3 linked regions of the Homo sapiens genome follow. The protein of the gene in region 3 purifies or fractionates together with the protein of the main gene of each other region. This does not show direct contact. Each region holds a gene or a part of one and is shown on either strand. Other genes may lie near its edges.

Region 1 (3,500 bases), on a different chromosome or scaffold from region 3:
GTGGCCTCGTTCACTCGGAAGAGGTAGTCCCGGACAGCCCTCTTACTCTTGCAGTTCAGCTCCTTGTGCAGGAGGGCGGCGCTCTTGCTACGGCGCTGCTTGGCATAGCTCTGCTGCAGTTCGCTCTCTGTGCTGGAGATCAGCTTCTGGGTCACAGGGTTCGATTCAGCAGTGGCTTGGTCACAGCGTGCAGGCCGGGACTGCAAACCCAAGACCACCATTACAGAGGTCTAGCCTTCTTACAGTGGTGGTATGGGGTGGGGGATGGGGTGCAGATACTTTGGGTCCGAGGTCGGGTGACATACCAAGCATGGCAGGATAATCATGTCTGTATCCACAGCTTTGGCGCTCTGTTCTTCCAGCCTCAGACTCTTACTGGGCTGCCACCGCTGAGCCAGGGACCGTATCCTTTCATCTGTGGTGAGCTCATCACCATCAAACCTGCAGAAGGGCAGCACAAAGTTGAGTACCAACAGTGTAGACAGGCCAGTTTTAACCTGCACTTAAACTTGTTGGCAATGTTCTTCAGAGTTGTTCTTCTGTTAGTATCAATGACATTATCATATTCCGTGTTTTGCCAACTGGATTCACAGCCTTCACTTATGCATGGATACAGAATGCATGTATGCTCTGTGGCAGGAGATGCAAACTCTCCTGCAAAATCCATTCTCCTTTTCTATCTTTTCCATTTTTAAAATTAATTTAAATGTTTTATTTTCATTAAAAAAACATTTTTAAAAAAAATTTATTTGTTTTTTTTAGAGATGACGTGTTGGAGCTATGTTGCCCGGGCCGGCCTGGAACTCCTGGGCTCAAGCGATCCTCCTGCCTGCCTCAGCCTCCCTAGTAGCTGCGATTACAGGCTCATACCACCATGCCTGGACTCCCCTTCTCTCCTTTTTTTTTTAAATTTAACAGAGTTTAAATGAGCAAAGAGTGATCCCCGAATTGGGCAGCTCCTGAATCAGAATGGGTTCAGAGTGACTCCACTGCTGTGGTTGGAGGTTTACGAACAGAAAAAGGAAACTGACACACAGAAAACAGAAGTGAGGTACAGAAACAGCTGGAATGGTTACAGCCTGGTGTTTGCCTTATTTGAACGCAGTCTGAACAGGTGGACGACTCTGGCCGAAACTCGGTGGCCCTTCTCTCTCTCTAAAGCTCCCTGAGTTTTAGCAAGAGCCACAGTCACCCAGCTAGAGACATGGTTAGCAGCTAGATGTGCTGATGCCCCTGGGTTCTGGGCAGTGCAGGTGAGCGAGGTGGTGTGCCACCTCTGGAGTCTACTGGACTAATGGTGCACTCCCTTCTCCACCTCCCCTCTTTCCTCTGGGCTAGAACCGAGAGGTGGGGTGGCCGAGGGAGCTTTCACTCCACAAATGAGAACGCTGGGATTGCTGGGTCCCTCTGTGGAGCAGAGCTGTCACCCACCCCAGACTCTGCCTACCTCTGGACTGTTATGTGAGAGAAAAACAAATTCTATCTGCCCTGATCCATTATATTTCTGGTTTCTTAGTTACCGCAGCTTAGACTGTACCCTAACTAATGCAACCCTGCTTCACCTCATAAAGGCTTTTAGGCAATATATAAGAAACTAATAAAAGAGAAACACGAAACACAAAATAAAAGAAAAATTAAATGAGAATTTACAATGAGTAAGAAGTCAAAATTAGGATACGGGGGATGGAGGAGACTGGATTGCAGATATGTAAAGTTCTACGCAAATTAAAAAGTTGGGCCCAAAAACTAGCTCTGAACTTCCTGGCCAAGAGAAAGGGAATGTTCTTAATTTTAAAAATATCTTGAGCAGAAGTTCCTGCTCTGTGCTGTCTGCTCCCTGGGATTACACATGAGAGACATCTTGGTGCCTGCCCAATTTCTGTGTCTGTAAAATGAGTTTCCTCTCAGAGGCCGACTACAAACATAAGTTTTAAAGAGGAACCACAGTGCACTTTGAAGATGATCCAGGTAACGTAGCACAGGCCACCTCCCACCTCGCCTTACAAAGGACTAGCAACTGCTTCCCGGCCTGTCGGAGCGTCGATCGATCCAGAAGCTGCTGCCAGGAGGCGCACACCCTCCCGCCCTCACATATTCTCTCCCTGGCCACACTTCAGCTGCACGGAAATGTCCCTTACCTCTTCTGAACCTCCAGGAAGAAATAATCGGTCTTTTTCATCTGCAGTTCGTATATGGCCCGGAGAATGTGCAGAGGGGCATTGAGGGCATCATGAGCCATCTGGAGGCCAGGGGAGGACGCAGACAAGAACCATTAACAGTGCTTCAATACGGTATTGATCAACTGAACTCAAAACTGAGAAGACAATATAGCAAAAGCTGCCACAGGTTATAATTGAGGAACATTATATGGGTAGTTTAAAAAGCATATAAAATTGTAAGCACCAAAACATGGACTATAACACCTACACTACGACTGTAACTTCAAAGGAAATTATAAAACACTAAAACCCCAAAGAAATATCCTGTCAACAAAATACAATGCTGACAGTAGATACTTACCACATCGTATTCACGGCTAGCGTCTCTATAACTGTTTTACACTCAAGTTTGACAACTAGCGCATACATAGGCACTGTATTTTCTTTTGATTTTTTTTGACACAGGGTCTCACTTGGTTGCCCAGGCTGGAGTGCAGTGGTGTGATCATAGCTCATACCACTGAGTACCCAAAAGCGTAGAAAGGCAAGAGGAGTTTTAACCTGCACTTAAACTTGTCAGCAATGTTGATCAAAGTAGTTTTTCTGTTAGTATCAATGACATCATCATTTTCTGTATTTTGCCAACTGGATTCATAGCTTTTACTTATTCATGGATACAGAATTGCATGTATGCTCTGTGCCAGGGGATGCAAACTCTCCTGCAAAATCTGTAAACTTGAACTCCTGGCCTCAAGTGATCCTCCTGCCTCAGCCTCCTGGGTAGCCAGGACTACAGGCGCATGCCACACCTGGCTAGTCTTATTTTTTGTAGAGGCAGGGTCTTGCTAAGTTACCCAGGGTGGTCTTGAACTCCTGGCCTCAAGTGATCCTCCTGCCTCAGCCTCCCAAAGTGCTGGGATTACTAGTGTGAGCCACTGTGCCTGGCTGGGATTTGCTTTTTCTGACATTCTACGCTACATTCTGTTTACTCTTCATTTAGTCACAACTTCTGAAGTCCAAGCCCTCATCCTTTTCATATTGTTCTGAGGAAGAATAGATTACCTAGTAAAGGTAAGAGTGTATTTCTGAGAAACTATGAGGAAGGAACTATCGTATAGAGTTCATGGACGAGCCTTAGGGCTTTAGTAAGCCCTTGAAATTCGTGCAAAATTTTACATACATGTTTGAATGTGTATTTTATGGGGAGAGAGGACCTAAAGCTTTTGAGTTTATAACCCAAAATATTAAGAACTATTGTTGTGGGGCTTTTCTGTTCTTCTGGATCAATTCTGCACAACATAAGACTGAGTCTTTAGGAAGTGAATTCTCAGGACAGCAGAC
Region 2 (4,270 bases), on a different chromosome or scaffold from region 3:
GGAGGAAACCAATGCCATTGTGCCCTGCAGGCAGGGCCACCTGAACAGGGCTGAGGCAGCCACGACGGAATCTCTCCACAGCCCATCTTACTGTTGGCAAAGCAGCTTTTCCCTGTAGGCCAGGTTTTCCTAACTTAGGAGCCGAATCTCACAGACACTTTAATCACGAACCTTTCAGTTTCTGTTAACACCATGGGAATATGCTTGTCTATCTCATACCTTCTGCAGGAGGATTCAAAGGAGCCCACATGGGGCCTTACCGACGATGCTCTCCCACCCTCCTAAGAAAGCTGCCATCCAGGACCCGAGCACCTACCGACCACAGTGGGCTCCAGGTCCACAAACACTGCTCTGGGCACGTGCTTGCCAGCTCCAGTCTCACTGAAGAACGTGTTGAAGGAGTCGTCCCCACCACCAATGGTTTTATCACTTGGCATCTGACCATCGGGCTGAATTCCATGTTCCAGGCAGTACAGTTCCCAGCAGGCATTGCCGATCTGGACTCCTGCCTGCCCCACGTGGATAGAGATACACTCACGCTGTGAACCAGAACATAAATGTAGACCCATTCATTTCAAGGCAACTTGAAGCTATATGGTATGCAAAATATTATAATTTAATATTTATATACTGCTTCAGTATCTGGTGCTTTCACAATTGATATTTCCTAGGAGGGTTAGGTGACTGACCCCTTTATCCCTGTGAAAACTTACTTGCTCTACACCATCCCAGCTGCTAAGTTCCAGAGGTAGCCCTAGAACCTAATGTTTGCCACTACACAAAAATTAGATTATTTTAAAACTTGGAAGCCATGTAATGTCAGTAATCAAACCCACATTATAGCCAGTCACAGTAATTCTCTGAAGAATACATAGCAGTTTTTGATTATGTCCTACCAAAGGATAAGGTAATGGGGTTGGGTAAGGAAATAGAGAGTAGGTCCCAGGTCACTGTGGTCCAAGCCCAGGTGTTCAGTATGTGTCCTCTCTCTGCACCCCCAGATCTACCCTCCATCATTCACCACCCGCCCTGTGCTCTCCGAGGCTGACCCATGAGGACAGCATCAGAGGCCTTCCTTGCTCTCTGGCTTCGTGCTGGTTTGTTCAATGACAGGCAGCCGCAGGAGACCAGGAGGCTGGAGGAGAGTGGCGTCAGGGTACTCTCCCCTTGGCCCCTTCCTGCTCACCTTTCATGGGCGATACAAATCCCTCCATCAAGGCCACACTTTTGGCAGGTGGCCCTCTTCATAAAGTTACCCTCTCAATTTTTCGTAAGCACTCCCTCCCCTCTACCCCTTGAAGCCTAGGAGTGTAATGGCTCCCAGATGTCATCAGTGCTGGGACACTGCACTGTCCTTGGTGGTTTCTTTAAGCCCTGACAAGCCGGATGTGGTGGCTCATGCCTGTAATTCCAGCACTTTGGGAGGCTGAGCTGAGATCGCTTGGGACCAGTTTGAGACCAGCCTGGGCAACTATGAAAAAAAATTTTTTTTTTTTAAACAGAGTCTTGCTCTGTCACCCAGGCTGGAATGCAGTGGCACAATCTCAGCTCACTGCAGCCTCTGCCTCCCGGGTTCAAGCAATTCTCCTGCCTCAGTCTCCCACGTAGCTGGGACTACAGGCCACTATGCCCAACTAATTTTTTGTATTTTTAGTAGAGATGGGGTTTCACCGTGTTAGCCAGGATGGTCTCGATCTCCTGACCTTTTGATATGCCCGCCTTGGCCTCCCAAAGTGCTGGGATTACAGGCGTGAGCCACAGCGCCCGGCCGAAAAATTTAAACATTAGCCAGCTGTGGCAGCACACACCTGTAGTCCCAGCTACTCAGGAGGCTGAGGCAGGAGGATTGCTGGAGCCCAGGGGTTCAAGGCTGCAGGGAGCCGTGATCGTGCAACTGTGCTCCAGCCTGGGCAACAGAGCTGTTGTTGAGCCGTTTCAAAAAAAAAAAAAAAAAGATACTTGACAAACCACGGCCACTGCTATTCAGACTTGGGACTTAGAAATCTATTCTTTATGTGAATGCGTTGGTTGCTTTTTTTTTTTTTTGAGGCAGGGTCTCTCTCTGTCGCACAAGCTGGAGTGCAGTGGCACCATCATGACTCACTGCGGCCTCGAAGTCCTGGGCTCAGCTGACCCTCCCACCTCAGCCTCCCGAGTAGCTGGAACCACAGATCCACGCCTCCACCCCGGGAATTTTTCTATTTTTAGTAGAGAAGGGATTTCGCCATATTGGCCAGGCTAGTGAGGAGCCCCTGACCTCAGGGGATTCCCCGCCTCCAACTCCCGTCTGAGCTTTAATTCCTGATCTGACCAATGTCCACAGCCCTTGCCTCCATCAACAAGGCTCCTGGGGCTCCTCAGTGGTTTCCAATAGGACAGAGACATTTGGAGACCGGAAAGCGGGAGCAGCGCCCTTCTGTCTTCAGGAGGCGGCACCACTGTTTGCTCTCTGGGGGACAGGACACGGTCAATGCTCCCCGTCCACTGACTCAAGGCCGGCAGCTTCGTCTAAAACAAAAGCTGCCATCCCTGCCCTGGAGCCCGCAGACCCAGCAGACGATGCCGTGTCCTCGTGTCCCGCCCTGGGCCCCGCATCCTTCTCTGACCTCCTTTCTGCACCCTGGCCCGCAACAGCATCCCTCCATCCAGCCACCTCAGGAGGCCAACTTCGTCCACCCTCCAGCCTGGGCGTCTGCGGGGTGGGAGTGACCTGGCCTTACCATGTTGAGCTCCTCCGCTGCCGCAGCCCAACGCTACTACTTGACCTCAACCGCCGCTGCAGCTGCGCACGCCCAACGACAGCCTCCCGCCGTGCGCTGTCTGGGATTGGCCTGCTGGTGCCAGGCCACCATTGGTCCGGACGTCCTGGGAGGCGGGCCAAGGCTCGGATCCTAGTTTTGATTGGCCGTTGTGCAAACCACGTAGTGGGGACGCCCTCTGATTGGATGCAGGATTGGCGGGAAGGCAGCAGGCTCAGAGAGGGCCCTCTGACTGGATGCAGGACTGGCGGGAAGGCAGTGGGGTCAGAGGGCAGTGCGTGGGCTGAGACGTTTCCGGGGGTCCTCTGACCGGGGATGGAGCAGCTACTGCGTCTTTATAGGTGGAGGAACATTGCTTTGTAAGTAAGCTCCCAGCCTTGCAGTGGCTTGACCACGAACTTGTGCCGCTGCCTCCTCCCCAGTTGCCCCAGACCGGTTCCTCTGGAGGTGCCTTATTCAGATCTTTGCAAACATGGCCGCCTTTGAGAGGCCTTCACGGCATCTACCCAAGTCACAGCAGCACAGCAATCACCCCACCTTCCCACCCAGCACCCGGGAAGTGGCGGGATTCGATCACTTTTGTGATCTGAAAGGAAAAAGTGAGTGGGTTTCTGTGGCTCACGTCTGTAATCCCATCACTTCGGAGGCAGAGGCGGGCAGATCACCTGAAGTCAGGAGTTGGAGACCAACCTGGCCAACATGGTGAAATCCCGTCTCTACTAAAAATACAAAAACTATCCGGGTATGGTGGGCGTGCCTGTAATCCCAGCTACTCGGGAGGCTGAGGCTGGGGAATTGCTTGAACCCGGGAGGCAGAGGTTGCAGTTAGCCGAGATCGCACTGCAGCCTGGGCGAGACTCCGTCTTAAAAAAAAAAAGAAAAGAAAAGAAAAGAAGAAGCAGAGGTAAAATTAATATAGGTGGAGAGGTTGGGCTGGGCGCAGTGCCTCAGGCCTGTAATTCCAGTGCTTTGGGAGGCCTCCGCCGGAGGATTGCTTGAGGTCAGGAGTTTGCAACCAGCCTGGGCAACGTGGTGAGACCCGTCCTGCCCCCGTTTCTACAAAAAATAAAAAATGAATAAAATTAGCCGGACATGGTGATGGGTGCCTGTAATCCCAGCTACTCGGGAGGCTGAGGCACAAGAATCGCTTGAATCCGGGAGGTGGAGGTTGCAGTGAGCCGAGATTGTGCCACTGCACTCCAGCCTGGGTGACAGAGGGAGATTCCGTCTCACAAAAAATAAAAAACTAAAAAAAAATACAGTTTATTTGGGCCAAGTTTGCGAACTGCAACCTTGGAGATGCAAGTTGCCTTAATATACACTCTAATTAGCAGCAGTTACAAATGGGTTTTTAAAGGAAAAGAAGGGGCAGTTTCTAAATTGTTTACCAAGAATTTTACAAATAGAGACAGAGTCTTGCTGTGTTGCCCAGCCTGGTCTTGAACTCCTGGCCGGAAGGGAGCCTCCCACCTTGGCTGGCCTGGCCAGAGGAATGTATATTAAAATAACAT
Region 3 (4,919 bases):
CAAGATCTCTCTCTCACACACACACAGACACACACAGCTCCCAAACTTTCACAGAAAGTCTGAGAGCAACCATGTAATTATAAAGGAGCCCTACCTCTCAAGAGTGAAGTAAGGGTGAGCTATGTCATTTCAGCCTGAAGAAGCCAGAGACAGGAGAATGTGTGTCACTTAAAGAAAAATAGGGATTAGCAACAATGTTTGGTTGAAAAGCCAGAAATAATAAAAGATAGTAAAATTTTGATTACCAAAGGGGAAAACAAAAAGCAAAACAACTTTCAGATTTCTGTACAGAGCTTCTTCCTATTAAGTGCCTAAACTATAGGCAAACTTTGGTGTTCCCACTAAAACACAAGAGCCTCACACAATTAGGAAAAAAAAAATCAAAAGAAACAAGGAAACTGAGAATGGAAGTTAGTGTAAATCTCTGCATTTGGGGAGTTGTCATTAACTCCAGAGCCCAGCATAGTTTCCATGGAGCCCTGAAGGGAGGGGACCTCCTGCCACAAAGAGTTTCGTTCCAGACGAGTCGTAGCAGTGGGTGTAAACAGCATTGGGGAAGAAGTCAATGTCTGAAAAGTAATTCCTCCAGGTTTCATCATGATTCTACGGGAAGAGAAAGAGACTACAATTAGCACCTCTAGCCATGGGGCAGGAAAAGGGGGAGGAAGGGACAGGAATGCTTTCTGGTCTCCTTAAGGGAACAGGGTTCTACAGGTACAACCTCATGTCAGGAGATTGGCTGGTTGGTTCTCATGGGAATCAGGGCCTCATTTTTCCAACTAAACGTTAGAGAAGAACGGAGCAGCTGAAGAATTGCTATACAAGGCTCAGTTCTTCTCAGGAGACTTAGAACCAAAGTTCTGTTTTCCCTCCACCTGCTAGGCACAGGAGGAAGAACCAAACACTTGAATAATTCACTGGAGGTGGGGCGCAGTGGTTCATGGCTGTAATCCCAGAATTTTAGGAGGCCAAGGTGAGAGAATCACTTGAGCCCAGGAGTTTGAGACCAGCCTGGGCAACATGGCGAGACCCCATCTCTACTAAAAAAAAATAAATTAGCCGGGCACAGTGCATATGCCTGTGGTCCCAGCTACTTGGGAGGCTGAGGCAGGAGGACTGCTTGAGCCCAGGAGTTCAAGGCTACATACAGTAAGCTATGATCACACCACTACACTCCAGCCTGGGCAACAGAGTGACCCTGTCTCAAAAAAAAAAAAAAAAAAAAAATTCACTGACAGCTGTGGTGGGAGGTCCCTTATCCTTCTTGCTCTATTACACCTTGGGGAAAATCCTAAGTCAACCAGTGTGTTTTACTGGGCCTCAGTTTTCCCACAGGCAACGTGCAGACATAAAAGCAAAATCGGGGGAAGTCTTTTCCTGTTCCAATGAGTGCCTCTTACTAGTGAAAAAGTATGAGTAGATGGTGTGTCAGTGGGGGCTGAGAGATAGAGGAAGATAATTTTTCTGTTACTGTGTAGCAGTCATCTCAGGTAGGGGCTTACGCACCAGCCAGCCTTTGCCAGTGGTTAGTTTCAGATTCTCCCCTGCTAGTCTGGGCTTGGACCCATAACAAGCTGAGAGCCTCTCTTCCAGAAATCTCTGAGCTCGGATGTCATAGAACAGCAGGGAGCCCTGCCCTGTTCCCACAGTGATGATGTGCTCGTAGAAACTCACTGACCGGATTCCTGAAAGACAGAAAAGTAAAAGGCAGTGAGGCGGGAGAGAATATTTGCTGACTGTCTGCTAGCCTGAATTTCTCCAACACTGAGTTTTCAACGTCCACCCTGCTCCCCTCCACCCGCCCCACAAAGTATCAGACAGTGTTTTCCCAATGGCAAGTTAGCTCATGCAAAAGCAAAGAGAATCCTGATGCCATCCTGCCTATCCACACACTGACAGAAACCATCCAAGAAGCCTTGGAAAAGTGTCAGATTCCCGATGATGCTCAAGATGCTTTTGGCCGAAGACCATAAGTGCTGAGAACTTCCTTGCTTCCTCTCAACTCACTCTGGGATCATCTTTCATAACTCTAAGCTTTTCTCCATCATATGTTTCCAACCTACACTGCAACTCAAGGTAATCTGCATATTTATAAATCATTAAGTCATCAACGATTCCTTATATTTCACCTAAAACCACTACTGTGGCAAATGCAAGAAGTCTTTTTTTATTTTTTGAGATGGAGTCTCGCTCTGTCGCCCAGGCTGGAGTGCAATGGCGCGATCTTGGCTCGCTGCAACCTCTGCCTTCCGGGTTCAAGCGATTCTCCTGCCTTAGCCTCCCAAGTAGCTGGGATTACAGGCTCCTGCCATCACACTCAGCTAATTCTTGCATTTTCAGGAGAGACAGGGTTTCACCATGTTGGCCAGGCTGGTCTTGAACTCCTGACCTCAAGTGATCCACCTTGGCCTCCCAAAGTGCTGGGATTATAGGCATGAGCCACTGTGCCCGGCCACAATGCAAGAAGTCTTTATCTAGTATTAGGTGTTTTGAGAGTGGCAAAAAGCCCAGAACTTAAATACCCAAAGATGTTTAAGACAAGTCATGTAATTACTTTAGATCACAAGGAAAACACATCTGCTGTACTTGGGGATCAAATCAGTGCTTGGGATATGAAGATGTCTCTTGGCACATAAGAACTGGATAATATTTGTGGAACCAGTATTTCCTTATTAGGTATGAAAGTTACCCCCATTAAACAGTACCAAAAATCTCTTAAAACTTTTCATTGCATACATTATTAGAGCCAAACCTATTTAGTCTTTTCTCTTTTTTTTTGAGCTCTGTTGCCAAAGCTGGAGTACTGTGGCACAATCTTGGCTCACTGCAACCTCCACCTCCCAGATTCAAGTGATTCTCCTGCCTCAGCCTCCCAAGTAGCTGGAACTACAGGCACCCGCTACCACCCCCAGCTAATTTTGTTTGTATTTTTAGTAGAGACAGGGTTTCACCATGTTGATCAGGCTGGTCTCGAACTCCTGACCTCAGGTGATCCACCTGCCTCAGGCTCCCAAAGTGCTGGGATTACAGGCATCAGCCACCGTGCCCGGCCCTATTTATTCCTTTCTCTACTACTCTCATTATACATTATTCTTTGTTCTAAAATGTAAGCATTTTAACTATAATTAAGAACAAATAGGCCAGGCGTGGTGGCTCAAGCCTGTAATCCCAGTACTTTGGGAGGCCCAAGGTGAGTGGATCACTTGAGGTCAGGAGTTCAAAACCAGTCTGGCCAACATGGTGAAACTCCATCTCTACTAAAAACACAAAAATTAGCTGGGCATGGTGGTACGCGCCTGTAGTCCCAGCTACTCAGGAGGCTAAGGCAGGAGAATCGCTTGAACCTGGGAGGCAGAGGGTGCAGTGAGCTGAGATCACACCACTCCACTCCAGCCTAGGTGACAGAGCAAGACTCATCTCAACAACAACAACAACAAAAAAGAAATAGCTGGGCACAGTGGCTCACGGCTGTAATCCCTGTAATCTTAGCACACACTTTGGGAGGCTGAGGTGGGTGTCCCAAGAGTTTGAGACAACTCTGGGCAACATGATGAGAACCTGTCTCTACAAAAATACAAAAATTAGCTGAATGAGGTGGCGGACGCTTATAGTCCCAGCTACTCGGGAGGCTGAGGTGGGAGGACTGCTTGAGCCTGGCAGGTGGAAAAGCTGCAGTGAACTGAGATTGCACCACTTTCCTCCAGCCTGGCTGATAGAGTGAGGACCCTGTCTTCAAAAAAAAAAAAAAAAAAAAAACCACAAAAAACCCAAAACAAAAGCTACTTTGCAGTATCTGCACAGGAATAAACACTACTTGAAAAAGAGAGGGTGAACTGCAATCCACAGTGTGCCTTTTAGGACTCTCAGGATAACACAGCCATATTTTTGCATGAGAAATGGGATAAAGCGAGAAATGGGATAAAGTGAGATAAAGAAAATACAATTTGTTAAGTTGGATTCTGGTCCCTAGCTGTTCCCCCATCAAGCTGTGTGATGCTGGGCAAGTTATTTAGCTGGCTCTAGGTCTTATATGTAAAACTATGTTTTCTCATCTGCTTCCCACAGGGTTCTTGGTATGATGAAATGGCATGTCAGAAAAAGGTATTTTGAAACCTTCAAAGTACACTAAAATAAGTATTTTTTCCCTCTTCAATAAAGAATGAGGGTGCTCTTACAGAGAATATGTTATAAAAGATTTGAGGTGGAAGCTTAATTTACTCAGTGGTCAGAACTAAACTCAGTATTTTCTTCAGCCTTATTGAGGTTTGTCATACAATATACGACACATAAAGTATACAATTTGAGGTTCTGACATATGTATATATCCATGACATCATAACCACAATCTACATAATGAACATACTCATTACCCTGAGGTTTCCTCATGCCCTTTGTAAACTTCCTCCTTATCCCACCATGCCACATCTTAGCATAAATAGAATTTTAGTTCAGGCAGGACCACAGCAAAAAAATTACCACAGGATAGAAAGTAGGGCTCTCGGCCAGGTGCAGTGGCTCACGCCTGTAATCTCAGCACTTTGGAAGGCCGAGGTGGGTGGATCACAAGGTCAAGAGATCAAGGCCATCCTGGCCAACATGGTGAAACCCCGTCTCTACTAAAAATACAAAAATTAGCTGGGCGTGGTGGTGTGTGCCTGTAGTCCCACCTACTCGCGAGGCTGAGGCAGGAGAATCACTTGAACTCAGAAGGCAGAGGTTGCAGTGAGCTGAGATCACGCCACTACACTCCAGCCTGGCAAAAGAGCGAGACTCTGTCTCAAAAAAAAAAAACAACAACAACAAAAAAAAAGTAGAGCTTTCTAAAAGAACATGGAAACTACTAACTAATATCCTGACTGGTGGCTCCCAACAAAGGCTTCTGTGGCCACACATTTGTCTGTGGTGTTTGAAAGTCTAGT

The links. The genes of interacting proteins can lie anywhere in the genome.
Region 1: the proteins of DCAF12 (region 3) and ZZEF1 purify together in Homo sapiens (affinity purification with mass spectrometry; one large-scale study listed by BioGRID and IntAct). This does not show direct contact.
Region 2: the proteins of DCAF12 (region 3) and TUBA3C purify together in Homo sapiens (affinity purification with mass spectrometry, with the first as the bait; 2 studies listed by BioGRID). This does not show direct contact.

The regions. Positions count from the first base shown.
Region 1 is NC_000017.11:4,017,531-4,021,030, forward strand, and holds part of ZZEF1 (zinc finger ZZ-type and EF-hand domain-containing protein 1), read right to left. Parts: intron 2,240-3,500; coding exon 2,139-2,239; intron 442-2,138; coding exon 306-441; intron 201-305; coding exon 1-200. UniProt on the Homo sapiens protein: Histone H3 reader which may act as a transcriptional coactivator for KLF6 and KLF9 transcription factors.
Region 2 is NC_000013.11:19,179,025-19,183,294, forward strand, and holds the start of TUBA3C (tubulin alpha-3C chain), read right to left. Parts: upstream 2,801-4,270; 5' UTR 2,724-2,800; coding exon 2,721-2,723; intron 540-2,720; coding exon 317-539; intron 1-316. UniProt on the Homo sapiens protein: Tubulin is the major constituent of microtubules, a cylinder consisting of laterally associated linear protofilaments composed of alpha- and beta-tubulin heterodimers.
Region 3 is NC_000009.12:34,087,906-34,092,824, forward strand, and holds part of DCAF12 (DDB1- and CUL4-associated factor 12), read right to left. Parts: intron 1,686-4,919; coding exon 1,507-1,685; intron 604-1,506; coding exon 445-603; 3' UTR 1-444. UniProt on the Homo sapiens protein: Substrate-recognition component of a DCX (DDB1-CUL4-X-box) E3 ubiquitin-protein ligase complex of the DesCEND (destruction via C-end degrons) pathway, which recognizes a C-degron located at the extreme C terminus of target proteins, leading to their ubiquitination and degradation.